Homo sapiens: one gene and its partners. The protein of the gene in region 1 interacts with the protein of each later gene in a pairwise test. Each region holds a gene or a part of one and is shown on either strand. Other genes may lie near its edges. The genes, in order: SNCA, SLC6A3, PACS1, MAGEC3, FOXR1, RNF111 and PRPF40A.

What was found.
Region 2: the proteins of SNCA (region 1) and SLC6A3 interact in binary tests that used the Homo sapiens proteins (3 or more experiments, as listed by UniProt).
Region 3: the proteins of SNCA (region 1) and PACS1 interact in binary tests that used the Homo sapiens proteins (3 or more experiments, as listed by UniProt).
Region 4: the proteins of SNCA (region 1) and MAGEC3 interact in binary tests that used the Homo sapiens proteins (3 or more experiments, as listed by UniProt).
Region 5: the proteins of SNCA (region 1) and FOXR1 interact in binary tests that used the Homo sapiens proteins (3 or more experiments, as listed by UniProt).
Region 6: the proteins of SNCA (region 1) and RNF111 interact in binary tests that used the Homo sapiens proteins (3 or more experiments, as listed by UniProt).
Region 7: the proteins of SNCA (region 1) and PRPF40A interact in binary tests that used the Homo sapiens proteins (3 or more experiments, as listed by UniProt).

Annotation. Positions count from the first base shown.
Region 1 is NC_000004.12:89,827,162-89,830,661, forward strand, and holds part of SNCA (alpha-synuclein), read right to left. Parts: intron 1,024-3,500; coding exon 982-1,023; intron 1-981. UniProt on the Homo sapiens protein: Neuronal protein that plays several roles in synaptic activity such as regulation of synaptic vesicle trafficking and subsequent neurotransmitter release.
Region 2 is NC_000005.10:1,435,441-1,438,940, reverse strand, and holds part of SLC6A3 (sodium-dependent dopamine transporter), read left to right. Parts: intron 1-3,500. UniProt on the Homo sapiens protein: Mediates sodium- and chloride-dependent transport of dopamine. Also mediates sodium- and chloride-dependent transport of norepinephrine (also known as noradrenaline). Regulator of light-dependent retinal hyaloid vessel regression, downstream of OPN5 signaling.
Region 3 is NC_000011.10:66,241,272-66,245,244, forward strand, and holds the end of PACS1 (phosphofurin acidic cluster sorting protein 1), read left to right. Parts: intron 1-155; coding exon 156-382; intron 383-1,640; coding exon 1,641-1,760; intron 1,761-1,893; coding exon 1,894-2,009; 3' UTR 2,010-3,473; downstream 3,474-3,973. Other genes in the region: uncharacterized protein LOC124902694, read right to left, coding at 3,778-3,841. UniProt on the Homo sapiens protein: Coat protein that is involved in the localization of trans-Golgi network (TGN) membrane proteins that contain acidic cluster sorting motifs.
Region 4 is NC_000023.11:141,879,816-141,883,315, forward strand, and holds part of MAGEC3 (melanoma-associated antigen C3), read left to right. Parts: intron 1-1,587; coding exon 1,588-1,981; intron 1,982-3,500.
Region 5 is NC_000011.10:118,974,761-118,978,260, reverse strand, and holds part of FOXR1 (forkhead box protein R1), read right to left. Parts: intron 1-3,500. UniProt on the Homo sapiens protein: Transcription factor which acts as both an activator and a repressor.
Region 6 is NC_000015.10:59,088,663-59,092,162, reverse strand, and holds part of RNF111 (E3 ubiquitin-protein ligase Arkadia), read right to left. Parts: intron 2,497-3,500; coding exon 2,404-2,496; intron 1,105-2,403; coding exon 1,009-1,104; intron 1-1,008. UniProt on the Homo sapiens protein: E3 ubiquitin-protein ligase. Required for mesoderm patterning during embryonic development. Acts as an enhancer of the transcriptional responses of the SMAD2/SMAD3 effectors, which are activated downstream of BMP.
Region 7 is NC_000002.12:152,672,462-152,675,961, reverse strand, and holds part of PRPF40A (pre-mRNA-processing factor 40 homolog A), read left to right. Parts: intron 1-2,255; coding exon 2,256-2,364; intron 2,365-2,919; coding exon 2,920-2,984; intron 2,985-3,338; coding exon 3,339-3,500.

The DNA of each region.
Region 1 (3,500 bases):
CAGCTGGTAAGGAGTAAGCAGGAAGTTGAACCAAGAAGATCTGACTCCTGTGTTTTTAGTCATATCCACAACACTGTATTAAGATTCCCATATCATTGTCCTCATTTCCATTTTAGAAGTCAGTGATAGGAACATTTTATTTGTATAGGCACTATTGTGTTTAATGCTTTCCGATTATATAAATTATATTTCTGATTATATCTTTTGCTTCACCACATCTGCCAGGAAACGTGGAGTACTTACAACAGAAAACTTAATTACAGCAAGTCTGTGGGCTTTTAATTTGTTAAATTTTGGTTCTCCTTTGATTTCTCTATTTCTGGCACTCTCATCCTCATCTTCCTCAACATCTGATGATGATTATCATCCTTTTCATCATTTTTGATATTTCTTGATTGTAAACCTAATTGACTTGTTCAAATTCTCGGTAAATTTAGGCCAAATGAATAATATAATCAGAAATGTAATAATTGCACAATAATATTTGTACAAATAGCTATACCATAACAATACAAAGATAAATACAATAAACATTTTACTGACTGTCCAAGGGTGTTTCCTGAAATGCACTCTGAATTATCAAAGGAATATTGTAATCAACATAATTTAAGGTCAAAATATTTTACTGTAATCAACAGAAATTTTACTTTTTTTAAAATTATGGCAATATTCACATTTTATTTTTGTCAGCAGTTTGTCAATACATTTTTGGTCAGAATATTTAAATGCCCACTTACTATAAATTAAACATAGCTTATCAATTCAAAGCCCTCATTATTCTTGGCAAGTATATTTTTTATTTATAATCAATATTTACCTATTTAAAAATACTTTATAAAGAATTCAGTTTCAATAAGACTGATATGTTCTTAGAATGCTCAGTGATTGTTTTACAATTTCATAGGAATCTTGAATACTGGGCCACACTAATCACTAGATACTTTAAATATCATCTTTGGATATAAGCACAATGGAGCTTACCTGTTGCCACACCATGCACCACTCCCTCCTTGGTTTTGGAGCCTACAAAAACAAATTCAAGACATAAGTCTCAAGCTAGCCTTAAATTGCTGATTAGCTAGTTTTCAATACAACTAATTTAAAAATCTCAATCTTCAGAAGTATATATATTATTATATCTTCAGGGAAAGAAAAAAATATATATATATATCCTAAAACTAGAAGAAGGAACTCCAGTAACCACCACAATAAATAGAAGAAAGCCCAGCTAACAGGAGGTCCTCTCCAATTACGATTTTAGCACAAAATAATGACTTTATCCCCTTTGTTCCCACATCACATGTCAACTTACAGAGGAGAAAAAAGAATGAGATAACACCGGGGCCCAGTGAGAAGATAATTTTGAATTCAGAACTGTAGAAGCTTTAAAAGTACAGCACTAGAGACAGATCAGTCAACCCATGAAACAAAAGGGAAGAAGGATGGAGAGAAGGCTTTAACATGTGCTGAACACCCATTATGTAAAAAAAACATTTTAGGCTGGGCGCAGTGGCTCATGCCTGTAATCCCAGCAATTTGGGAGGCCGAGGTGGGCAGATCACGAGGTCAGGAGATCGAGACCATCCTGGCTAATATGGTGAAACCCCATCTCTACCAAAAATACAAAAAATTAGCCAGGCGTGGTGGCGGGTGCCTGTAGTCCCAGCTACTTGGGAGGGGCTGAGGCAGGAGAATGGCATGAACTCGGGAGGCAGAACTTGCAGTGAGCCAAGATTGTGCCACTGCACTCCAGCCTGGGTAACAGAGCAAGACTCTGTCTCAAAAAAACAAACAGACAAACAAACAAACAAACAAAAAACACATTTTACATATCATCTTATTTAATCTTCATAACAGCCATTTAATATAGTTATATTATGCCCATTTTAAATAGCTGATGAAATTAAAAATCCGAGTTAAGTAATTTATGTAACATTACACATGTAATAATAGGCTATAAGCACATTCAAACTAGGGTCTCTACACAGGATCAGAATTTCTTCCAAACCTTGAACATTACTAAACTTGAATACAAATAATTATTATGTGTATTATTAAAATTATGCTTGTAAAAAATTGTATTCATATCCTCTCTAATGTTGGATTTTTCAGTGTAATTCACACTGTATAATTTATGGAATCGGCATGATTTTTATGTTTTACAGAATTATCATACTCCTTTTTAAGTTTGGATCAGTTTACAAAATGTTATCATTTGCACTTTAATGTCATGATATACTGACAGTGTATTTAACATAAGGTGTATTTTTCAGCAACACTTCCTCTGGGACACCTTCACTCTTTATCACAACCTCTTTCCCCATTATACGGATACCTTCACCTCACTACGTTCCTCTGACTGCATATTTAGAGTCTCCTGAATTGCAGCAGTGACAACATCCTCAGGGTAGCTACTTCCTGTATACATCAACTTATGTTTGATTCAAATTTTACTTCCAGAATGTTTCACTTCCTTTGTTTGCTACTCTTTCATCTTTGCTGGCCAGTTTCCTCTTTTGATTGCGCATTTTCGTGAAACATCACATGGGCTCACCACTGGGAGACAATGTGGCCACACAAGTCCGGGCATTGCTGTCTGTATGAACTGCATAACAGATGTGAAGCAACCAATCTCCAAAAAGCTTTGAAAGAAGTGCTGTGGTTTTGTCACTGATTATAATGGGTTTCTGTTATTTATGTAATGATTTGAAGGCTGAAGAGTTAGCAGCAAAGTTTGTACTTTATGCAATGACTTTCGGTATACTGTGGTAACAGAAATTTGAATTGTGTTGTTAGTGGCTGGTGTTATTTAACTAACCATAGTACCTGGAATTTGTTTGTGCTGGAACTATGCAGAGTGAGAACAGCTGATATTTAAGAGAATATGTTTCAATCTCTATCTCTCATCCTCACCACCTGCACCCCATGTTGTCTTAAAAATGACTAGTAGTAAGAAATGTCTAACAGCTGGAATGCGATCTTTGTTCTTTGCCTTAGCAGTACCTAAGAATTTGACCTTTGGTTAAATTATGAAACATATTCTAAATCAAAGACAATGAGATAGAAGTAGAGAGTAGAATTATGATTATTAGAGGCTGACAACGGTAAGAGGGAGGGGAGGATATGGAGAGGTTGGTTAAAGAATATGAAATTGGAGCCAAATATGAGGAATGAGTTCTAGCATTCTGTAGTACTGTAGGGTGATATACTTAACAATAGTTTATTGCATATGTTCAAAAATCTAGAAGAGAGAATTTTTAATTTTTACTGTTCCCACCACAAAGGAATGATAAATGTTTCAGGTAATGGATATGTTAATTACCCTAATTTGATTATCACACATTGTATACATGTATGGAAATATAATTCTGGATCCCACAATTATATACAATTATTACATATTCACTAAAAATAAAAGAAAAATTAAAAATAGAGTAGCATATGACCCAGCAATCCCTCTTCTGGGTGTAGATCCACAAGAAAAGATTTCAGCATATCTG
Region 2 (3,500 bases), on another chromosome or scaffold:
TGGAGAGTATCTGAGGGCTCAGAGCCTTGGGATGCTGAGTCAGAGATGAAGCCGGCCCACTGGGGTAGGGGAAACTGAGGAAAGATGACATTGTGCTCTGGCACAGGCTGCAGCGACATCCAACTGTGCTTTGCTGGATTTTCAAGAGCCACCCTGGAGTCTGTCACAAGTGTCTTACAAGGCACAGCCCTGTGCCCCACTCCCGCCAGTGAGCCTGGTGTTGGAGCAAGTTAAATCACCTCTTCACGTGCAGGATTCAGGTGAGGAGGGCAGGAGAAAAAGGGACCTGTAGGTCCGCAGATAAGAGCTCATTTCCTTCCGTCTGTCACACAGAAAGGATGTTCACCAACAAAGCTGCCGTTGTGGGTCTTCATGGTGTAGTCCATAAAATGTCAAGAAGCAATTTCTAAGAATTTCAGAGCACCAACTCAACTTGGGCTAGTAGAGAACCTCTGACTTCCATCAGCGTGAGCAGTGGCACCTCGTTCTGAAGAAATGCAGCCGGCGGATGTGGGCATATCATCGTGTTCTCCACAATGCGCAGCCGGGGTAAGCTGGGCAGTCGTCTCCTCTGTGTCACAGACCCTGTGCCCACAATCCCGCATTCCATGCCGCCAGCTTCGTTCTGAAGACTAGTCCCAGAGGAGGGCTGCAAAGTGTGGCCGCAGGAAGGAAGGCTCGTGGCCCTGCGGGCGGATCTTTGGAAGAGCTTGTTCACACTCACCTAGTCCTGGTGAGGAAGGAAAATTGCAAATCACAGAAAGTGAACTGTTCGACCCACGAAGGGATAGATGAATCAGTGCAAGAAAGCTGGACTTCTTTTTAGAGACGAGACACCTTGAGTTGTTGAATCTCAGTAACGCTGCAGGTTCCGGTGCCAGCGTCCCGTTTGTTCTGCCTACCTGTCAAGCGCAGGATGCCAGTTTAGAGGAGACTGACATTGCTTATGAAATCAGATGTACACCATGCACCCCCGGCACCCTGATACATGTGCCTTTGTCCTTTTTAAAAATCTGGTTAATAAAAATGCATACGTTTTCATGTCTCATTGAATAGAAGTGCCACGTGGTAAATTAAGACATCAGCTAAAGTGCCCACAACAATCATTGTGGAGCTAAAAGGCCATCCAGCCCTGAGCAGGTGGCAATTCCATGGGGGAATGAAGCCAGCTCTCCAGGAAGCCTGGTTGTTCCTGGCCCTTCCCCTCCTGCAGACCTGCGAGCTGCTCCCTGCTCCTAACTGGGAGCCAAGATCCACCCTTGAAAGCCAGAGGGCGGAGTTCATGGTGAGGCCCAGCTGCTCAGCAGCCATGACTCACGTGCATTTCCCGTAGTCTCACCAGAGCAGCTTGGGATGGGCACCACAGCCAGAGGGGCCTCTGGGGCCTTCAGCCCCGCAGTGCACCCCAGGGTCCTGAGAGGTGGGTCTTTAAAACTCTCCGTCTCCTCCCTTCCCCTCGCTCTCTTTCCCTCTCCCTGTGTCTCTTTCTGTCTCTCTCCCTCCTTTCCTCTCTGTGTCTCTCCTGTTCTGTCTCTTCTCCTCTCTGTCTCTCTCCTGTTCTGTCTCTTCTCCTCTCTGTCTCTCGGGTACATGCACACACAGCAAGCACATACTAAAGACACCCAGACTGACACAGAGAGGCGTCCTCTCCCCTCTTTCTTTTCTTTTCTTTTCTTTTTTTTTTTTTTTGTGAGACGGAATCTCGCTCTGTCACCAGGCTGGAGTGCAAAGGCGCGATCTTGGCTCACTGTCACCTGCGCGTCCCGGGTTCAAGCGATTCTCCTGCCCCAGCCTCCCGAGTAGCTGGGGCTACAGGTGCGTGCCACCACGCCCCGCTAATTTTTTGTATTTTTAGTAGAGACGGGGTTTCATCGTGTTAGCCAGGATGGTCTCGATTGCCTGACCTCATGATCCGCCTGCCTTGGCCTCCCAAAGTGCTGGGATTACAGGAGTGAGCCACCGTGCCCGGCCCTCTCCCGTCTTTCTTCCAAAGACCTGCTTGATGCCTCCTGTGAGGTATGGAGGGGCTGCTCCACCAGAGGCTTCCTCCAGCGGGATCCGTGCATGCGTTGACAACACCCTCTCCTGAAGCCAGCTCTCGTGGGTGCCCTGGGGTGTACTGGTGTTCAGGGGTGGGGCAGGGTGGCCGTGCTCTGGTGGGCGAAGCACCATTTGCAGGCACGACCCTCAGCCAGCTTCTGTTTGTCAGGTTTCGGTTTCATTGCCAAGGGCAACCCCATTTTACAGACGCCCTGGAAACCCCACCATTCGATTGTATTGAATATAAAATATTTTATAGTCAGTCATATTTTAGTGTGATTTCTCAAACACAAAACAAACTACACACAAGGTTAATATAAAGAAAAAGATACTAAGCAAAAATAAATTTAAGGAAATGGGCCTTAAAAGCTATGCTTGAAATTCACACTTAGCGCCGAGCTTCCTGGGAGTCAGACAGGAGGGAAGGGAAGCGCCATGTTCTCATGAATGTTTTCCCTGGAAACGCGAGCAGGGACTTTGCCTGCCACCTCCTTGGGGAGACAGTCTCCCGTGTCACTAAATGGTGTTTAAGAAATGTGTCAGGTGAAGCTTCATCTGGAGCCCACAGTGATGTCATGAGCAGAGATCACTAGAAGGTTCTGTAGCCAACAGGGTAGTGGGTTTCCTGCGTCTGGGCCTTCGGTGAGCTTGAGGAGCTCGTGGTGAAGTTGGCTGGTTGGTGAGGGGCTACACGTCAGTGGCCCAGGTCACGGGCTCTGCCTTCCTGAAGGGCAGGGCTTGGAGCAACCGAATGCCTGGCCAGTGCTGACAGTGGCCACTACCGTTCAAGGGAGCCATTTCCTCACCCAGGTGCCCAGGGAAGCATCCAGGAGGGGACTGGCCACCACCGTTCAAGGGAGCCATTTCCTCACCCAGGTGCCCAGGGAAGCATCCAGGAGGGGACTGGCCACCACTGTTCAAGGGAGCCATTTCCTCACCGAGGTGCCCAGGGAAGCATCCAGGAGGGGACTGGCCACCACCGTTCAAGGCTGTTTCCTCACCCAGGTGCCCAGGGAAGCATCCAGGAGGGGACTGGCCACCACCGTTCAAGGGAGCCATTTCCTCACCCAGGTGCCCAGGGAAGCATCCAGGAGGGGACTGGCCACCACCGTTCAAGGGAGCCATTTCCTCACCCAGGTGCCCAGGGAAGCATCCAGGAGGGGACTGGCCACCACTGTTCAAGGGAGCCATTTCCTCACCCAGGTGCCCAGGGAAGCATCCTCAACCAGGAGGGGTCCTCTTGGTAAGGGGGACTCTGGTGTGGGGGCTGCACTGTCCCATGGATCAGAGCAGGCCCATTTGCTCTGGGAGCCGCATCAGCCAGTGTGGCCAGTGGTGATGTCATGCACAGTGGCCATGGTGATGTCATGCTCCCATGGTGGCCCTGCCAATCTGTGGTGCAGGGCAGGAAACAAAAGCAGTGGCTCTGGAAGGACCCAGGGTACACTCAGCCCTTCCTT
Region 3 (3,973 bases), on another chromosome or scaffold:
TCCTACATGAGCTGCTCTGTGTGGCTGGAGGGAACAGAGCTGCAGCCTTCCTCAGCCTGCCCTCCCGGGGACTGGCATGGCCCCTACCCCATCAGGCCTATGTAGTTGGGAGCTGAAGGCAGAGCTGACCTCTCCTCTTTGTTCCCTTTCCTCAGGAGCCCTAATAGCCCATATGGGGACGTGATTGGCCTCCAGGTGGACTACTGGCTGGGCCACCCCGGGGAGCGGAGGAGGGAAGGCGACAAGAGGGACGCCAGCTCGAAGAACACCCTCAAGAGTGTCTTCCGCTCAGTGCAGGTGTCCCGCCTGCCCCATAGTGGGGAGGCCCAGCTTTCTGGCACCATGGCCATGACTGTGGTCACCAAAGAAAAGAACAAGAAAGGTAAGTACCCCCAAGGCCGGGGAAGACCATGGGCCACCAGGCCTCCCGTCTCGTCTCTCAGGGCCTGGGAATAAATCTGCTTTTGGGATATTTGGGATGAAGAAGCATCCCATGGTCTGGCATGGGGTGCAGAGGGGGCAGTCCCACCTCCCCTCGAGGGACAAGGCCATTCCTTCTGTCATGCAGGAAACCGAGGCTGCAGAGAGTCGCTTGGTCACTCTCTGCTGAGCTCCAGTACTTTAGGGGCTGAGGCAGCTGCCACTGTGTAATGAAGGGGGCCTTTCTGGCCACTGCTGTCCGGGATGGACTGCAGACAGGGAGAGGCCTCTCTATATCACAGCTCCAGGTCCCTGTGACGCAGGAGTAGAGAACTTGCACCCAGCCCTGGAGGCCTCTCCAAAGAGGCCTCATGAGCAAAAGGACGTGGTTGTGTTTTCAGGATTAAGGGGCATACAGTCCATTCTGGATAGCAGGGGTAGCTTAAGGAGCTGGAGGGGAGTTGGAGCTGGCCCGGCTCCTGTGCGTGGGAGTGAGGCAGGAACCCCCATGGCTGGGCCAGTGCTGCGGCAGCGCCTGCCACCGTTGGTGCCAGCTGGGGACCCGCAACTGGTAGTGCACCTGCAGCACTGGCATGACCCCAACCCCGCCTCCTTTGGGTGCTGCAAAGCAGCTGTGCCTATTTCTGTGTGTGACTCCCCTCTGCAGAGTTCCCCTGGGGGGTCAGGCATGGGGCTGTGCCAGGCCCACAGCCAAAACCCACGGCCTGCAGCACAGAAACTTGCAAGGGGAAGCTGCCTGCTCAGCAGTGACCTCCCTGCCCTTGCTTCCTTTCTGGAGTGGGAGTGGAACAGGGAGCACTCCCCGGCATCCCCAGGACAGCGTGAGGACAAACTCATGCTGCACTGGCTCCTGCATAGAGCATGCGCCTGATAGGGAGGCAGGCCCCTGCCCCACAGGCTGCCTAGAACGTTCCAGCTGGAAAGGACTTCAGAGACCATCTGGACCAAGGTCTTCACTGAACAGGCGAAGATATCGAGCCCCAGGGGGAGAAGTGGGACCTTAGCCAAAGTCACCAGCCCAGTGCTGGGACTGAGTCAGGAACCTGAAGATCCTGACCCACAGCCCAGTGCCAGGGAGGAGGGGTTGGTTTGCAGATCACCTCCCCTCGCCACAGGAAGAAGGGGACAGTCGGCTGGGGAGGAGAGGGGTGGCGGCTTCCCCAGGGGCTGGGACACAGGTGGCCTTGCTTGCTTTCCAGTTCCCACCATCTTCCTGAGCAAGAAACCCCGAGAAAAGGAGGTGGATTCTAAGAGCCAGGTCATTGAAGGCATCAGCCGCCTCATCTGCTCAGCCAAGCAGCAGCAGACTATGCTGAGAGGTGCGAGGGCAGGCAGGGCCGGGAGGAGGGCAAGAAAGGGACTGGAGAGGGAGGCAGGCAATGGCCTTTCCCAAGGGGCCCTGGGGAGATGGCCTGAGCAGTCTGGTCACCCCTCCTCTCCTGTCACCCCTAGTGTCCATCGATGGGGTCGAGTGGAGTGACATCAAGTTCTTCCAGCTGGCAGCCCAGTGGCCCACCCATGTCAAGCACTTTCCAGTGGGACTCTTCAGTGGCAGCAAGGCCACCTGAGGCCCTGTCTCCCAGCCACTTTCCCTCCTGGCACTGCCACCAGCCTCACCGCCTGCGGGCAGGGGGAGGCCAGCAGGCCCGGGCCCAGCACCCCTTCCCTGGCACCAGGGTCTGCCTCTCACTCGCCCAGGTCCCGAAGGACACTGCCACAGGGACGCCTTCCCTCCCCTCCCCTCCAGCCCACCCCTGCACAGCCCCTCCTCCTTCCCGCTTTTCCCCTTCTCCCTCCTGCTCCAGGCCCAAGGCGTGTTGGTTTTGCCTTCTGGTGCCCATAGTCCCCTGGACTGAGTCCCCCAGGCCTTCCTTCACCCGACTTCCAAACTCTTCCTTGTGGTATCAGTTTCCTTCTCGGAAATGAGAAAGCTGGAATCCTGGTCCCCAGCAGGAGAGCCTAGTCCTCCCCCAGCCCCTCCAGCCACCAGGGTGTCCTCTAGGATGCAGCTGCCAGATCCACTCACTCTGCTGCCTCCAGCAGGACCCAAGGCCACTTTCAACTCTTATGGGGTTCTCCACCTGCCCCAGAGCTTCTCAAGGGAGGGTAAGGGGGCACCCTGAGCCCACAGGACCCCTACTTCACAGCTCACAGGGGCAGGAGGCAGCTCCCCTGCCTCCAGGACCCTGTTGCTATGGTGACACAGCGTTTCTAGGACAGAGGGGCCTCCCAGTCTCCCCCCACCACCCGTGCACGACTTCCTCACCACCCCCAGGTTCCCTGCAGATGTCGTGTGTGTCCTGAGTGTTTCTTTGGTTCTTTGCACGCCAAGTCTCTTGGTTGTACCATGTGACACACCCTGTGCACTGGTCGCTGTCTTCGTGGCTTCCACCCTTGTTAATGATGCTCCTGCCTCTGCCTCCCAGCCCCTCACCCAGCACAGCTCTGCCTGGACTTGGAGAGATGGGAGGCAGACCCCCACCACCATACATGCTGTCTGTGGCCCCTCAGACATTCTGTTTCATCTCCCATTCATCTCCCTCCTCCCACCGTGTCAGTTTTTCTGCCTTTCCCTGCTCTGTTCTTCCCCCTCCTTAGGCCCCAGCCTGGGCCCAGACCCATCCTCCCAGCCAGGTTTCCCTCCAGCAGGCTCCTTCCCTCCCTGTCACCTCCCTCTCACCAACCCGGGGTCTGAGCCCCTCATTCCTGACCGTCCGTGTTCTCAGGAGTGGTTGAGGACACAGGGCCCCAGCCCAGCCCTCTGCACCCCCCAGCCCGGCCATCTGCGCCCCACAGCCCCTTTGGAGCTTTTCTCTTGTCCTCTCACTCCTTCCCAGAAGTTTTTGCACAGAACTTCATTTTGAAAGTGTTTTTCTCATTCTCCATACCTCCCCCAAGCTCTCCTCCAGCCCTTCCCAGGGCTCAGCCCTGCTGTCCTGAGCGTCTCCTGGGCCAGAGAGAGGAGATGGGGGTGGGAGGGACTGAGTTGATGTTGGGTTTTTCATTCAATAAATTGGTGATTTCTTACCGACTGCCTTGGGCTTCTATGCCCCCTCACTGTGCCACAGGAGCTGCCCAACCCCTTTTCCACAGTGCAGCCCAACTCCAGTGAAAATCCACCAGGAACGTAGGTGGAAAGAAGCGTACTCCCATGTTCTCAATCATGGAAACAGGCATGAAGGTGTCTCACCTGGCATGAGGCAGGCAGAGGTCGGAAACAGGAAAGATGTCATTTCCACACCAAAAGCCCGTTTTTCCCCAGGACCCACCATCCCCAAATCCACCTCCCAAGGCAGTGACGTGTTGAGTGTGGCTTCCCCATCTTCTGATCAAAGGTCAGAACTTAGCTTCTCTCCCCTGCTCCAGGTTGGTGAAGTCCGAGCCAGTGGGGTCTTTGCCTCTGCAGGTGGAGGGAATAGGGCTGAGGGACATCTGTGGAGTTCCTTTTCCTGCCCGCCCTTGACTTAGAGATGGAAAGCAGTGGTAGCCACTGTCCCCTGGGTGCCCGGTTTTTCCACTAGCTTCCAAGACA
Region 4 (3,500 bases), on another chromosome or scaffold:
CCTCTACCTGCTGTGAGATTGTAGGTCGCAGACAGGAAGAGGGTAACCGAGGGCTGAGGGACACGTCTTCATGACAGAAGAAGGGAGGAGGTGCCAGCTCTCTAGGGAATAAATAGGAAGACTTTGAGAAGGACAAGGGGAAACGCCACCTCAGAGGACAGACTCCCAGAGATTCCCAGCATGCTCCTCCATATCAGCCCTCGTAGAGCTCCCCAGTCAGCTCAGGCTGAGCGGCAGCCCTCTCATTGCTGGGTGAGAGGTGCAGGGAAAGGGAAGGCCTTGGTCTGAGGGTCCCGTGGCAAATCAGCACAGGGAGCTGCCTCCAGTTGGCAGAGGGAAGATTCCCAGGCCCTGCTGGGGATAAGAGTGAGGACTGAGGAGTCACATGTGCATCAGAACAGATGTGAGGCCAGCCCAACTGCCCCCGTGGTAGAGTGCTGGGAGGTGGCTGCCACCTCACTACCTCCCACTGCTCTCAGGGATGTGGAGTTTGCCCTGAGTTTTGGCTAGAAGAGTGGTAGGGACATGGCCCTGTCTGAGAAAAGGTGAGGATGCTAATTAAATTCTGATGGGACCATGCAGTCCAGAACTGTGGGGCTCTGGGAGTCTGGTCAGCCCCAGCTGTCAGCCTTGGGAGGCCCAAGACTCTGCTTGCAGTCTTTAGCCTGAGGGGCTCCCTCACTTCCTCTTGCAGGTGCTCCAGGAACCAGGAGTTGAAGACCTGGGTCTGAGGCACACTTCCTAAAGTCAGCACAGCAGAGGAGGCCCAGGCAATATCAGGAGTCAAGGTGAGTGCACGCCCTGACTGTGTACCAAGGGCCCTACCCCCACAAACAGAGCAGACCTGGCAGCACCTGGCCATAGCCACCTACTGCCATTCCTGGTGCCTCAGGCTCTGCCTGCCAGCTGTGCCCCGAGGTGCTTTCTCACATCCTCCTACAGGTTCCCAGGGGACAAACCCCCTAGGATGGCAGGTGACCCGTGAGGCCCTAGAGCACCACCTTAAGAGAAGAAGAGCTGTAAGCCGGCCTTTGTCAGAACCACCATGGGTGAGTTTCTCAGCTGAGGCCACTTGCAGTGTCCCTCTCTCCCTCAGGCCTGTTGGATGCCATCATCCACATCCCTGCTCACACATTTACCTCCTGCTCCTAAGGAAGACGTTATGCCTGTGTTTTGAAATGTTCCTAGCGGCAACTTTGAGAAAGACTTCCAGAACCAAACTGTGATAGAGAACTTGGCAGATGCACAGGATTCCACAGAGGAGGAAGAGGAGAAAACCTCCTCCATTTCCTCTTCCTCTTTCTACTTATTATTCCCCTCCTCTTCCTTCTCTTCTTCCTCCTTCTCCTCCTCTTTCTCCTCTTCCTCCTCCTCCTCCTCCTCATCCTCTACTCTGATTCTTGGTGCTCATGAGGAGGAGGAGGAGTAGCTGTCTGCTGGGATGCTGCCTCTTCCCCAGAATCCTCCTGAGAGTCCTCCCCAGGGTCCTCTCCAGGGTTCCCTGTCCTGCTCCTCCTCCACTTTATGAAGCCCATTCAATGAAGAGCCTAGCAGCCAATAAGATGAAGATACAAGTACCTGGCACAGCTTGCCAGAGAGCGAGCCCTTGTTCACTTATACACTGGATGAAAAGGTGGACAAGTTGGTGCAGTTTCTTCTCCTCAAATATCAAGCAAAAGAGCCTCTCACAAGAGCAGAGATGCAGATGAATGTCATCAACACATACACGGGCTACTTTCCTATGATCTTCAGGAAAGCCCGTGAGTTCATAGAGATTCTTTTTGGCATTTCCCTGACAGAAGTGGACCCCGACCATTTCTATGTCTTTGTAAACACATTAGACCTCACCTGTGAGGGGAGTCTGAGTGATGAGCAGGGCATGCCCCAGAACCGCCTCCTGATTCTTATTCTGAGTGTGATCTTCATAAAGGGCAACTGTGCATCTGAGGAGGTCATCTGGGAAGTGCTGAATGCAATAGGGGTGTGTGCTCAGAGGGAGCATTTCGTCTATCGGGAGCCCAGGGAGCTTGTCACTAAAGTTTGAGTGCAGGGACATTACCTGGAGTAGCGACATGTGCCCAGTAGTGCTCCTCCACGTTATGAATTCCTGTGGGGTCCTAGAGCCCATTCAGAAACTAGCAAGAGGAAAGTAGTGAGATTTTGGTCATGTGAAACAATACCGTCTCTAGTTCCTTTCCAATCTCTTCCAAGGATGCTTTGAAAGATGTGGAAGACAGAGCCCAGGCCATAATTGACACCAAAAATGATGCTACTGCCATGGCCAGTGCAAGGTTCCGTGTCATCTCCAGAAACTTCTCCTGTCCTGAGTGAAGTATAGGGCCGTTTCTTACGTCTGTGTTTGAAGAGGGCAGTCAGGGTCCTAGGTAGTGGAGGGCCCGGGTGGGGCTTGAGGGAACAATACAGTGTTCTTTGCATTTCTGTTCCATATGGGAGAGATAGATTTACCTCGTTTCCTTTTGTGTACTTTTTGAATGATTTTCCTTTTAATAGTAGGTTGAATTAGCTTCAGAATATTATTTTATAAATATTAGTCACACATATATTGCTGTTTATCTAGTTTAAGAGTAACAGTTTGATATTTTGTAAAAAAAAATGGAAAAAGCTTGTCTCTTATTTTGTGATCTATAACAGGATAACATGGTATTGTACTAGGAATTTTCTTTAAATTATGTAAGAACTCAGCAGTTAAATAGTGGAACGAAATAAAGGATGGTGAATAGTTACATTTCCTTATCCCGTTTATACTGTTGTTCTTGAAAATTAAAGAAATAGACCTGGCTTTGCTTAGCTCATTCAAGAAAGTAGCAGAAATTAAATGTTAATAAATAAAAGCATCTCTGACGGCTTTATTTGCCTAACATTCTGTGAGCATTTGCTTGCGGAGGGGACTCTTAATAGTGGGGATACAGTGAAAAGCAAGAGTTATGCCTTACCTATAAAACAATAGAGTCTAGGAGCAGAAGCCATGTCAAGAAGGTGGTAAGATGCTCTCTACAATCATAAGTTTCAAAAAAGTGGGGAGGTGAGACTCCAGATGGAGTCTTCAAGTATAAAGTCCCTGAGCTAAGGTAGTGTGGGGCTTCGGGAAACTGCAGGTGCTTCTGTGGGAGCTGATTGTTATGAAGCTGGGTGGTGGCAGGGGCCAGACTCTCAGAAGGTGAGAGAAAAGCCTGCAATGGAAAACTGCTCTGAGCAGTTCCTTCTGGGTGGATGATGAGGGAGAGAGGAGTCTCCATGTGGGGAAGTAATGGAAGCTGTCTTGCAGCTCTCTAACTGGTGAGCTTGAACACAGTGCAAGGACTAGGTGATTGATACCCATCATTTGCAAGTGTTTCCTGAGAAATAAGGCGATAATTCCTTGAAATGCTGCCCAGAAGCTTCTAGGCTGGCACTCATTTTCCTAGCCTGGGAGAGCCAGAGTCCATTCCATTGAAAGGTCATTTAATTAGGTTATTTTAAATGTAATGTGGGCAACTGTA
Region 5 (3,500 bases), on another chromosome or scaffold:
TACATGCCACTGCACCCCACTAATTTTTGTATTTTTTTTTTTTCAGATGGAGTCTCGCTCTGTCGCCCAGGCTGGAGTGTAGTGGCGCGATCTTGGCTCACTGCAACCTCTGCCTCCCAGGTTCAAGTGATTCTCCTGCCTCAGCCTCCCAAGAAGCTGGGACTACAAGCGCACGCCACCACACCCGGCTAATTTTTGTATTTTTTAGTAGAGACGTGGTTTCACCATATTGGCCAGGCTGGTGTCGAACTCCTGACTCATGATCTGCCTGCCTCACCCTCCCAAAGTGCTGGGATTACAGGCTTGAGCCACCGCGCCCAGCCCAATTTTTGTATTTTTTGTATAGATGAGGGTCTATGTTGCCTGGGCTGGTCTCGAACCCCTGGGTTCAAGCAATCCTCCTGCTTCGGGCTCCCAAAGTGTTGGGATTACGGGCGTGAGCTACCATGCCTGGCCTTCCTGTATTCTTTGTCTTAGCAAGTGGCACCACCATTAATGGTTGTTCAGGACAAAAACTATTTTTGCCCCCTCACTGTCCCTATGAGTGTCATTATATTACAGATGAATCTAGGCTTTTGTTTGAGAAATGATATACTTATCGGAGAGCTCAGTAATTAGAGAGGATGCCTATTATGTTGCTAATATTCAACATAGTATTCAAAAAAGGAAAAAGTAGCAAAAGATAGAAAAATTGGGGTTTTTTTGGAGACAGGGTCTTGCTTGGTTGCCCATGCTGGAGTGCAGTGGTGTGACACCGGCTCACTGCAATCTCCACCTCCCAACTCAAGCAATCTTCCCATCTCAGCTCTTAAATAAAGAACTTAAAATACTTGAACAAAGACTTATAATACATACTATTAAGATGCCAGTTACCCTCAAAATGAATCTGTAAGTTTTATGCACATATTATAGCACAAAAATTAAAGTTTGGCCAGGTGCGGTGGCCCACACCTGTAATCCCAGCACTTTGGGAGGCCGAGGCAGGTGGATCACTTGAGGTCAGGAGTTTGAGACCAGCCTGGCCAACAAGGTGAAACCCCATCTCTACTAAAAGTACAAAAAATTAGCCGGGCTTGGTGGTGTGTACCTGTAGTCCCAGCTACTTGGGAGGCTGAGGCAGGAGAATCACTTGAACCTGGGAGGCAGAAGTTGCAGTGAGCTGAGATCGTGCCACTACACTCCAGCCTAGGTGACACAGCAAGACTCTGTCTCAAAAAAAAGTTCTAACATAGTAAAAATCACCATAAGCAAAAAACAAATAGACAAACAAACAAAATAGCAAAACTTCAATCCAAATTTCTCAGTTCTCTGATACATAGAGAGCTCCTACAAATCAATATGTAAAAGGTCAACACAAACTTAGAAATGGACAAATGATATGAATCAGCATTCACAAGGAGGGGATAACTGAATGGCTAACGAGATGATCAGCATTATTAATAATACGAAAAACACTGTAAGATAATGAGATAATCAAATTGACTGGAATTATAAAGATAATACCAAGTGTTGAGAAACATGCAAAGAGACAGAATCTCTTATTTTACTGCAGTTCTGTGTATCAACTGGAGCAGCCCTTGTTAAGAGCAATCAGGCAGGACCACAATTTACTCGACCTTACTGTCTGCTCCTGGATGTATATATTCAAGTTAATACAGGAACTTATATACTAATCAATCTCCATTGTTACTACCATCTACTGACCTCCTGGTTTAGCTGTCACTCTCCAACACTACTCCTGCCTTAAATCTTGGCTGCTGGCCAGGTGCAGCGGCTCATGCCTGTAATCCCAGCACTTTAAGAGGCTTAGGCAGGCGGATTGCTTGGGCCCAGGAGTTTGAAATCAGCCTGGGCAACATGGTGAAACCCCATCTCTATAAAAAATACAAAGATAATAATCTAGCCGAGTGTGGTGGCGTGAGCCTGTAGTCCCAGCTACTCAGGAGGCTGAAGTGGGAGGATGGCTTGAGCGGGAAAAGGGAGGTTGCAGTGAGCCAAGCTTACGCTATTGCACTCCAGCTTGGGCAACAAAGCCAGACCTTGCTTCAAAAACAAAAACATGATCTTTGCTATTTATTGAACTCTTCTCCAGCGAGTTTGACTTCTACTCTACTGTGGACACTCCCTCAGGCATAACCTAAACCAACAACTGCAACCTCTCCGTAACCTCATTTATGCACCACATAAAAACGCACCACCTCGTGTCTTTCTGGCTAACTCCCTCAACCCCAACTATGATCCCACTGAGGTCACCAGTCCACTGAATTATGGTTTTGGCGCACTCGTTTGGCAGAGGTGGATTTAGTCAGGGTTGTGGTTTGGCCAACAAAGTGCTCCAAAGCCACAGATGATCCAGGGAACCTGCGTAATATCTGACCATGGGATTCAAGTTAGTTAAATAAGGGTGGACATATCAAGTGATTGAAACAGTGAAAAGGTGATAGGATCAATGGACTGGTGATCTCATTGCGACCCAAGGATAGCACCTTTGTATGTCTGTGTCTCTCTTTGGCACAGATCCCCCATGCTTTTTCAAGGATGTTGTTCCACAAATCTTCCCCTCTCTTTCCTGTGTCACTAATTTTTTGTCTTTGTTGGGTCATTCTCATCAGCATGCAAACATGCTGTTAATTCTCCCATTTTAGGGACCAGGTGCAGTGGCTCATGCTTGTAATCTCAGCCTGCTTTGGAAAGCTGAGGCAGGAGGATCACTTGAGCCGAGGAGTTCAAGGCTGCTCAAGGCTGCTCAAGGCTGCTCAAGACTGCAGTGAGCTGTGCTGGTGCCACTGCAGTCCAGCCTGGGCACCAGATAGAGACCCTGTCTCTAAAAAAAAAAAAAAGAAGAAAGAAAAAGAAAAAGATTATCCCATCTTATTTCCTGTTGAGGCATAACACATTGCCTCTACTTCCCCTCCTTCTACTCTTAAACCCCCTTCAGTCAGGTTTTTTGTTCTACCACTTACTAAAACCACTAACCAGGGACCTCTGCTTTGTTAAGTCCAATCATCACTTACATTCCACTCATCCAACCCCTCCCTCCTTGAAAGGCTTTTTCCACTTGGTTTCCAGGATACCACAGACGCCCTAGTTTTGATTCTCAATAGTCTTTTTTGCTAGTTATCTCTCTTCTCTCCAATCTCTTTACAATGGACTGCCCCCAGGGCTCATTCTTGTTCCTCCTCTATTCTTACTCCTTAAGTTCCACCCATATACCAAAAGACCCAAAATTTACATCTGCAGTCCCCACTTCTCTCCAGAACTCCAGGCTCATGTATCCAACTGCAGACTCAATGCTTCTACTTGGATGTCTAAGGATCTCCAGCTCAGCATATCCAGAACAGAATTCCTGATCTTCCTTCCTAAACCTGTCTCCCACTCAGTACAAGGCAACTCTATCCTTCCACTAGGTCAAAACACTTTGAAGGCTCATACTCAATTGTCTGTCTTATACGCCATATCCAATCCATCAGCATAGCCAGCTGGTTCTCCCTGCTACTACC
Region 6 (3,500 bases), on another chromosome or scaffold:
AGTTACAGTATTTAACTTGGACAGTTGAAAACTTGAATGTACTGGTAATACCTCAATACTCTTTGAAAATAGATGAAAAATACAGAGAATAGTAATTTTCACACTTTATGATTATTCTTTACATAGTATAAAGGAGTCTCCAACCCCTGGGCTGCAAACCAGTACCTGGCTGCACAGCAGGAGGTGAGTGGCAGGTGAGCGAGCATCACTGCTGGAGCTCTTCCTCCTGTCAGATCAGCAGCAGCGATAGATTCTCATAGAAGCGTGAACCCTATTGTAAACTGTGCATGTGAGGGATCTAGGTTGCATGCTCCTTAAGAGAATCTAACTAATGCCTGATAATCTGAGGTGGAATAGTTTCATTCTGAAACTATCCCCTCTGCCACCTATCCATGAAAAATTGTCTTCCATGAAAACTGGTCCCTGGTGTCAAAAAGGTTGGGGACCGTTGGTATTGAGCATGGTTTAAGACACGTATTTAACATGTCTACCCCATAACTGTATAATGCTATACAAGCAACTGAGGGTAGAGTAGAAGAAACATACATCAATAAAATGTCCGTCAAAATAAATTGCTAGTTAAAAAAATTACAGTACTGCCATATGATGGAATTCTGCATAAGCTATTAAAAATAATAAGGGTGATCTGTGGGAGCTAATTGGCATGAAAGGCAATCTGCAAACTATGTGGTAATCATCTCCTTTTGTGTTTTTTTTAAAGTAGACAAAAATATATATACATATGCACATTATTAGAAAATGCTAAAAAATATCTAGAAGAATATCTAAATCCTTAACTATGATTTCACTTCTGGGAAGAAGGACTAGGGTCTGCAGAGTAAAAAACTGCAAAGTATATATTTTTTATACTTTCCAAAATTTTTAAACAATATGTATGCATTACTTCAATAAAAATGTCATTGCTAGAGTCTACAAATTCAAAAAAGGTATATATTACATTTATGCCTTTCAGTAACACTCCAGAAGTTTCATAGAATAAATTCTTACCTTTTTGTATTTATGTGGATATGTACATCTTTCAATTGTCCCCTGGGATGCTCCACGATTGACATTGCCTAATCTTTCTTCCAAATGAATCAGTTCCTGAAAGTGAAGAATATAATGACTGGTAAAAGCCAAGATGATTATTCCTTGAACAGAACTGTCAACATTGTATAAGAAATAAACCTCCATACTTAGAAACTTGCAATATAAATACAGTGTTCAAAAAAACTTACACATGACAAGTGGTTACTTATATATAAGTATATATATAAAACAGTTTATATGTTGCCCAGGCTGGTCTCAAACTCCTGGCCTCAAGTGATCCTCCCACCTCGGCCTCCTAAACTGCTGAGATTACAGGTGTGAGCCACCATGCCTGACTTAATGTTTCTCATAGACAGTAAGGCAAATGGTTGTTTATCATGTTTTCCTCAGCCAACTGAAATGGTACAGCAAAAGTTATCTTTATAAATTACAACAATATTATCACATGGTACTATGTAAGTCAGTATGTATGTATGTATGGAGAAGATGAAATAATTCTAGTAAATTAAGGAACCAAATCAAACAATAGTTCTAAGTCACAATGACTCCAACTTCCAAACTGACATAAAAAAAACACAACGGGGGCCGGGTGCGGTGGCTTGCGCCTGTAATCCCAGTACTTTGGGAGGCCAAGGTGGGTGGATCACTTGAGGTCAGGAGTTCAAGAGCAGCCTGGCCAACATGGCAAAACACTATCTCTACTAAAAATACAAAAATTAGCCGGGCGTGGTGGCGGGCACCTGTAATCCCAGCTACTCAGGAAGCCGAGGCAGGAGAATTGCTTGAACCCAGGAGGCGCAGGTTGCAGTGAGCTGAGATTGTGCAACTGCACTCCAGTCTGGGTGACAGAGCAAGACTCCATCTAAAAAAACAACAACAACAAACAAACAAACAAACAAACAAAAAAACAAACCACAACAAAACTTTAAATCCCATTCGAATGATTTGTTCTTCCTGAAAATTCAAACAAGACATTTAGCTACAAAGGGAATTACTTAAGTTTCTTTTTCTCTACCGATTTCTCTAAAAATTTAGCTGAGTCAAAAACATTCCGTTCCCCACCACATTTAATGGTATAGTTATATATCTGACATTTATATTGATTTAATACATTTTTATATTCTTCTATATTAGATATTTTCATTTACTCATCTTTAAATATTTCGGTAACTTTTGACCCTAAGATTAATAATACTTACAAATATTTCTGTAACTCCCAGAAGCAACATCAGAAAATCACATGTGATTCCCAGCCACTGTAGCAGTCCTACACAATTGTGTATAGTAGTATATATATACTCAATCTGCATTAAAGATACTGTGACAAACATATTCATTTATTTTATTACATACCTCAAAATTGCCCCTGAAAGGACCTCTGAATGATGTTCCATCCAATCCTGATGAAATGTAACGGATGTGAGGATAGCCTGCCATATCAGGAACCTATTTCAACAGAAGAGATAGGCTAAATCAATTTTAAGAATAGACTTGTGATTTACTGTTAACATTGAATAATTCAAGACCCTCAATGTTTTCAATTCAACTGCTCATAAAATTTGACTTCAATAAGAATACATAACTCCAACTAAGCATTCTGTAACAGGTTTAGGTTTCTGTTAAAATATAACCTAACTCTCCAAAATGCCCAAACTTAAGCCTGAGGCTCTTAGTAGCTCAAACTTGAAAAGAGTAAAATTGTCTTAAGATCCTGTCCATTTCAGAGAGCTTTATTAAAACAACAACAAAAAATGCACACAATTTTCCAACAAAATTCGACTTCAAGATAAGTTTTTTACTTCACTTCTGTTAAGCTTCCTAACAGCCAAAGTACCCTATGCCTTTTTTGCTTGATTCTATTAGGGAAACTTTTAACACTGTTTTCTAATTTTTTGTTAGTTACAGTCAATCTTCATTATTTATGGATTACATATGTGTGAACTGACCCACAGGCTAAAATTTACTTGTAACCCCATAATCAACACTTGTGCTTTCAGAGTCATTCGTGGATATGACCGGTGGCAAAAAATTGCAGTTGCCCAACATGCAACTCTGTTCCCAGCTGAGGTAGAACAGGGCTCTGCCGTATTTGAGCTCCTACTATAAACCAGTGTCTTGTTTGCAGACTGTTTAGTGCCACGTTTTTCACAGTTTTGTGCTTTTTGTTGGTGATTGTGTTGTTTAAAATGGCACCCAAGCATAGAGCTGAAGTGCTGTCTAGTGTTCCTAAGCAAAGAAGGCTGTCATACACCTTATGGAGAGAATAAGTTTCATTCACGCATGAGTTACAGTGTTGTTGGCTATGAGTTCAATGTTAATGATTCTACAATATTTTTTAAAGTTGTCTTTAAGCAGAAACACACATAAAAAAGGTTATACACTGATTAGTTGTGAACAGAGGTTTGCAAGGGTCCCATATTTGCTAATTCAGTGTTTGCAGCAACTGTATA
Region 7 (3,500 bases), on another chromosome or scaffold:
TGAATTATGGGGGAAAAAAAAGCAGTTTATGGCTGGGCATGGTGGCTCACACCTGTAATCCCAGCACTTTGGGAGGATGAGGCAGGAGGATCACTTGAGGCCAAGAGTTTAATATCAACGTGGGCAACATAACAAGACTCTGTCTCTACAAAAAATTTAAAAATTAGCCAGCACTTGTAACCTCAGCTACTGAGGAGGCTGAGGCAGGAGGATCACTTGAGCCTAGGATTTCAAGGCTGCAGTGAGCTATGATTGCACCGCTGCACTCCATCCTGGGTGAGACAGCAAGGCCACCCTGTCTCTCTTTTTTTTTTCTTTTTTTTTTTTTGGCACAGGGTCTCCCTCTGTCACCCAGGCTGGAGTGCAGTGACGTGATCAGGGCTCACTGCATCCTCGACCTCCTGGCCTCAAGCGATTCTCCCATCTCAGCCTCCTCCTGAGTAGCTGGGACTACAGGCACACACACCATGCCTAGCTCATTGGCCTGCCTCAGCGTGCCAAAATGCTGGGATTATAGGTGCGAGCCACTCCACCTGGCCAAGGAAAAAAGGCAATTTACAGAGAAAGAAAGTTGTCTAGGAAGTATATGAAAAGCCATTCAGCCATAATAATAAAGAAATACAAGTTAAAATAATACTGTGATTATTTTTCTAAGTGAAAGTCAAGTAGAGAAACATTTAAAAGATAACACCAGATACAAGAAAACTCTCTTTTCACTCTTAGTGAGACTATAGTAATACAACTTTTTAATAAAGCAAAGCTGTTATCTGTCAGAGTTCACGGTTTGTGTGTACTTGCATACCCTGTAGTCTAGTACATTTTATATGGCTATGCTTTATAGAGCTTTAGAAAGTGAGGTCAAGCTAAATTTCTTGACTTTAAGGGTGGCCTGAATAGTTCACCATAATCTCATTATTGAAACATGATTATCCATCTTAATATTTAAGCATGTTGCCTTCATCCATCCATCCCCTATTTTAAGTGTTCTTTTGTTTTTCGTATGTTAGTTTCCCAGAGTCAAAATAGATTTTTAACTTTTTCTGATGTTTCAAAAGTTTTAAAAGAAATCTGTATGGTGTATTTGAAGGCATGAAAATGAAATTAACATTTTGTTTTATACTTTCTCCCCCTTTTCTCTACATTTAAGATACACGAACATATATCTAATATATCAGAGACATCTTCCACATTGATAGAAATGTGTACCCATCATGTCAAATGATGGGTTATTATCATTTGATTGTGCATAAATGGAAGTGCTCCTCTATCAATAGATATTTAGGCTTTTTGGAATAACTTTATTTTGCGTCTTGTCATACTGAAAGTTTTCTTCAATGTTTTCCATAAGTTTAACATTAAACAGTTGTTTCCTGCTTTTTTTCATTCCAGCATTTCCTTGGTATAGTGTCTGAGTCATAATACGCTTTTGATTTTAATTACTATAACAGAGATCATTTTTTGTCAGTATCTACTACAGTGTCTCTTCGCCTAAGCGTTCTACTTATTTTTTTTTCATTCCCTGGCCCCCACCCATGCATTCCCTTATTATGTAGAAAGAAATGTAAGGCTTCTACCATTTTTTTCTCATCAGGAAAACCCCCAATTATTAAACAAGTTAGTAATTCTGGGTAGTTGTAATTTTTGTTTGACATCAGTGTTCAGCAAACTTTCATGAAATATTAGATTGGAAATATTTTTGGATTATTTGTGTCATACAGTCTTTATATGGTGACTCAATTCAGCTGTGGTAGCACAGTCAGCGATAATGTGTAAACAAATGAACGCGGGCATTTTCAAGTAAAACTATAATTACAAAAATTAATAGGCTGAATTTGTCTAGTGGGTTGTAGTTTGTCAATCCTGATTTAGATTGATCCTTACATCTTATTTATCTTCACACTTGCCCAAATCCTTAGAGTTATTATAGCACTAATGTGAAACCACTGAATGAGTTTAATAAGCCATTTAAAACTATTAACCTATGGGCCAGAGGAGCTAGTGTTTTAAGTCAGTTAAATGTTTATTTTGTCATTTGTCCAGGGTCTTAAAAACTGATTTAATAACTGAACTTTTAGGAAACGATTATCTTTATTTCTTTGTCTTCAGATAAGTGTGTTTTTAGAGTTCATATAGCTTTTATTCTAAATGTCAAATTTTATTTCAACATCAAACATTTAAACAATTTAGACATTATTTTTCTAAATGAAGCAAAAATTTATTTAATTGATAAATACCACATTTGAATTTCTCTCTAGTTTTACTCCCAAAAAAGAAGAGGAGGAGAGCCAACCAGCAAAGAAAACATACACTTGGAATACAAAGGAAGAGGCAAAGCAAGCTTTTAAAGAATTATTGAAAGAAAAGGTATTAATATTGCAGATTTTTATTGTTTCTTAGCTTTTTGACATCAAGCATGTATTATGGATTTTTATGTGATGTGTAATAATTACCCAACAAATGACGTTACTCTTTAATTAAACCTTGATGGTATTGATAATACCAATCTCATGAACTGTTGTAACTGAAAAGCAACTAAATATGTCTTTTTTTTTTTTTTTGAAGTACACTTTTGTGAAACTTTCAACACAAAAACTATTGTGTACAAGGTACTACACAAGCACATTTCTACCCAATATTTAATGTAAGGGTTTTTTTTTAATTCATAATAGTTATCTTTTATCCATAGTCTAAGAAAAAAGCATTTATGTTCTATTTAAATTTCAGTTAAAGTTTTCATTTTAGTTCATAGGTGTATTACACAGATTTGCCTTCAGTAAAAAACTATTTTTTATAACTTGTTTCAAACTCCTGCAAAGGGAAATGCTTGATGTTTGCAGTTAGTATTATACTCAGTTTCCTATTATGTGACTTAAACTATTCTTGTGTGAAATTTTAATTTTTCATTTAAATTATTTTCAGCGGGTACCATCGAATGCTTCATGGGAGCAGGCTATGAAAATGATTATTAATGATCCACGATACAGGTAGTACTTCAACTTTTTATTTACTTTTCACTTTGAGCATATAGCAGGCCTAGCACATTTAAAGTTGTGTAGAAAGATAAAACATTTAACTGTTGACTTCTGTTTAGGATACCAAGTATAGAGTTGTTTTATGTCTAATAACCAAAAAGTCAAAGGCTTATCAAACAATTTGAGTACTCCGCTACATATAAAATAATAATTATTTTAAAAGTAGAAATTACTTTCTACAATCATTTGTAATAAATTTTTGAAAATTTTTAAATTATATGTGTAAACAGTTTTATTTTTTTTTTCAAACCACTAATATTTGATTCTTTTGCCTGTGTTTACTCTTACATGGTATTTTTATATTAGTGCTTTGGCAAAGTTAAGTGAAAAAAAGCAAGCCTTTAATGCCTATAAAGTCCAGACAGAAAAAGAAGAAAAAGAAGAAGCAAGATCAAAGTACAAAGAGGCTAAGGAATCCTTTCAGCGTTTTCTTGAAAATCATGAGAAAATGACTTCTACAACCAGATA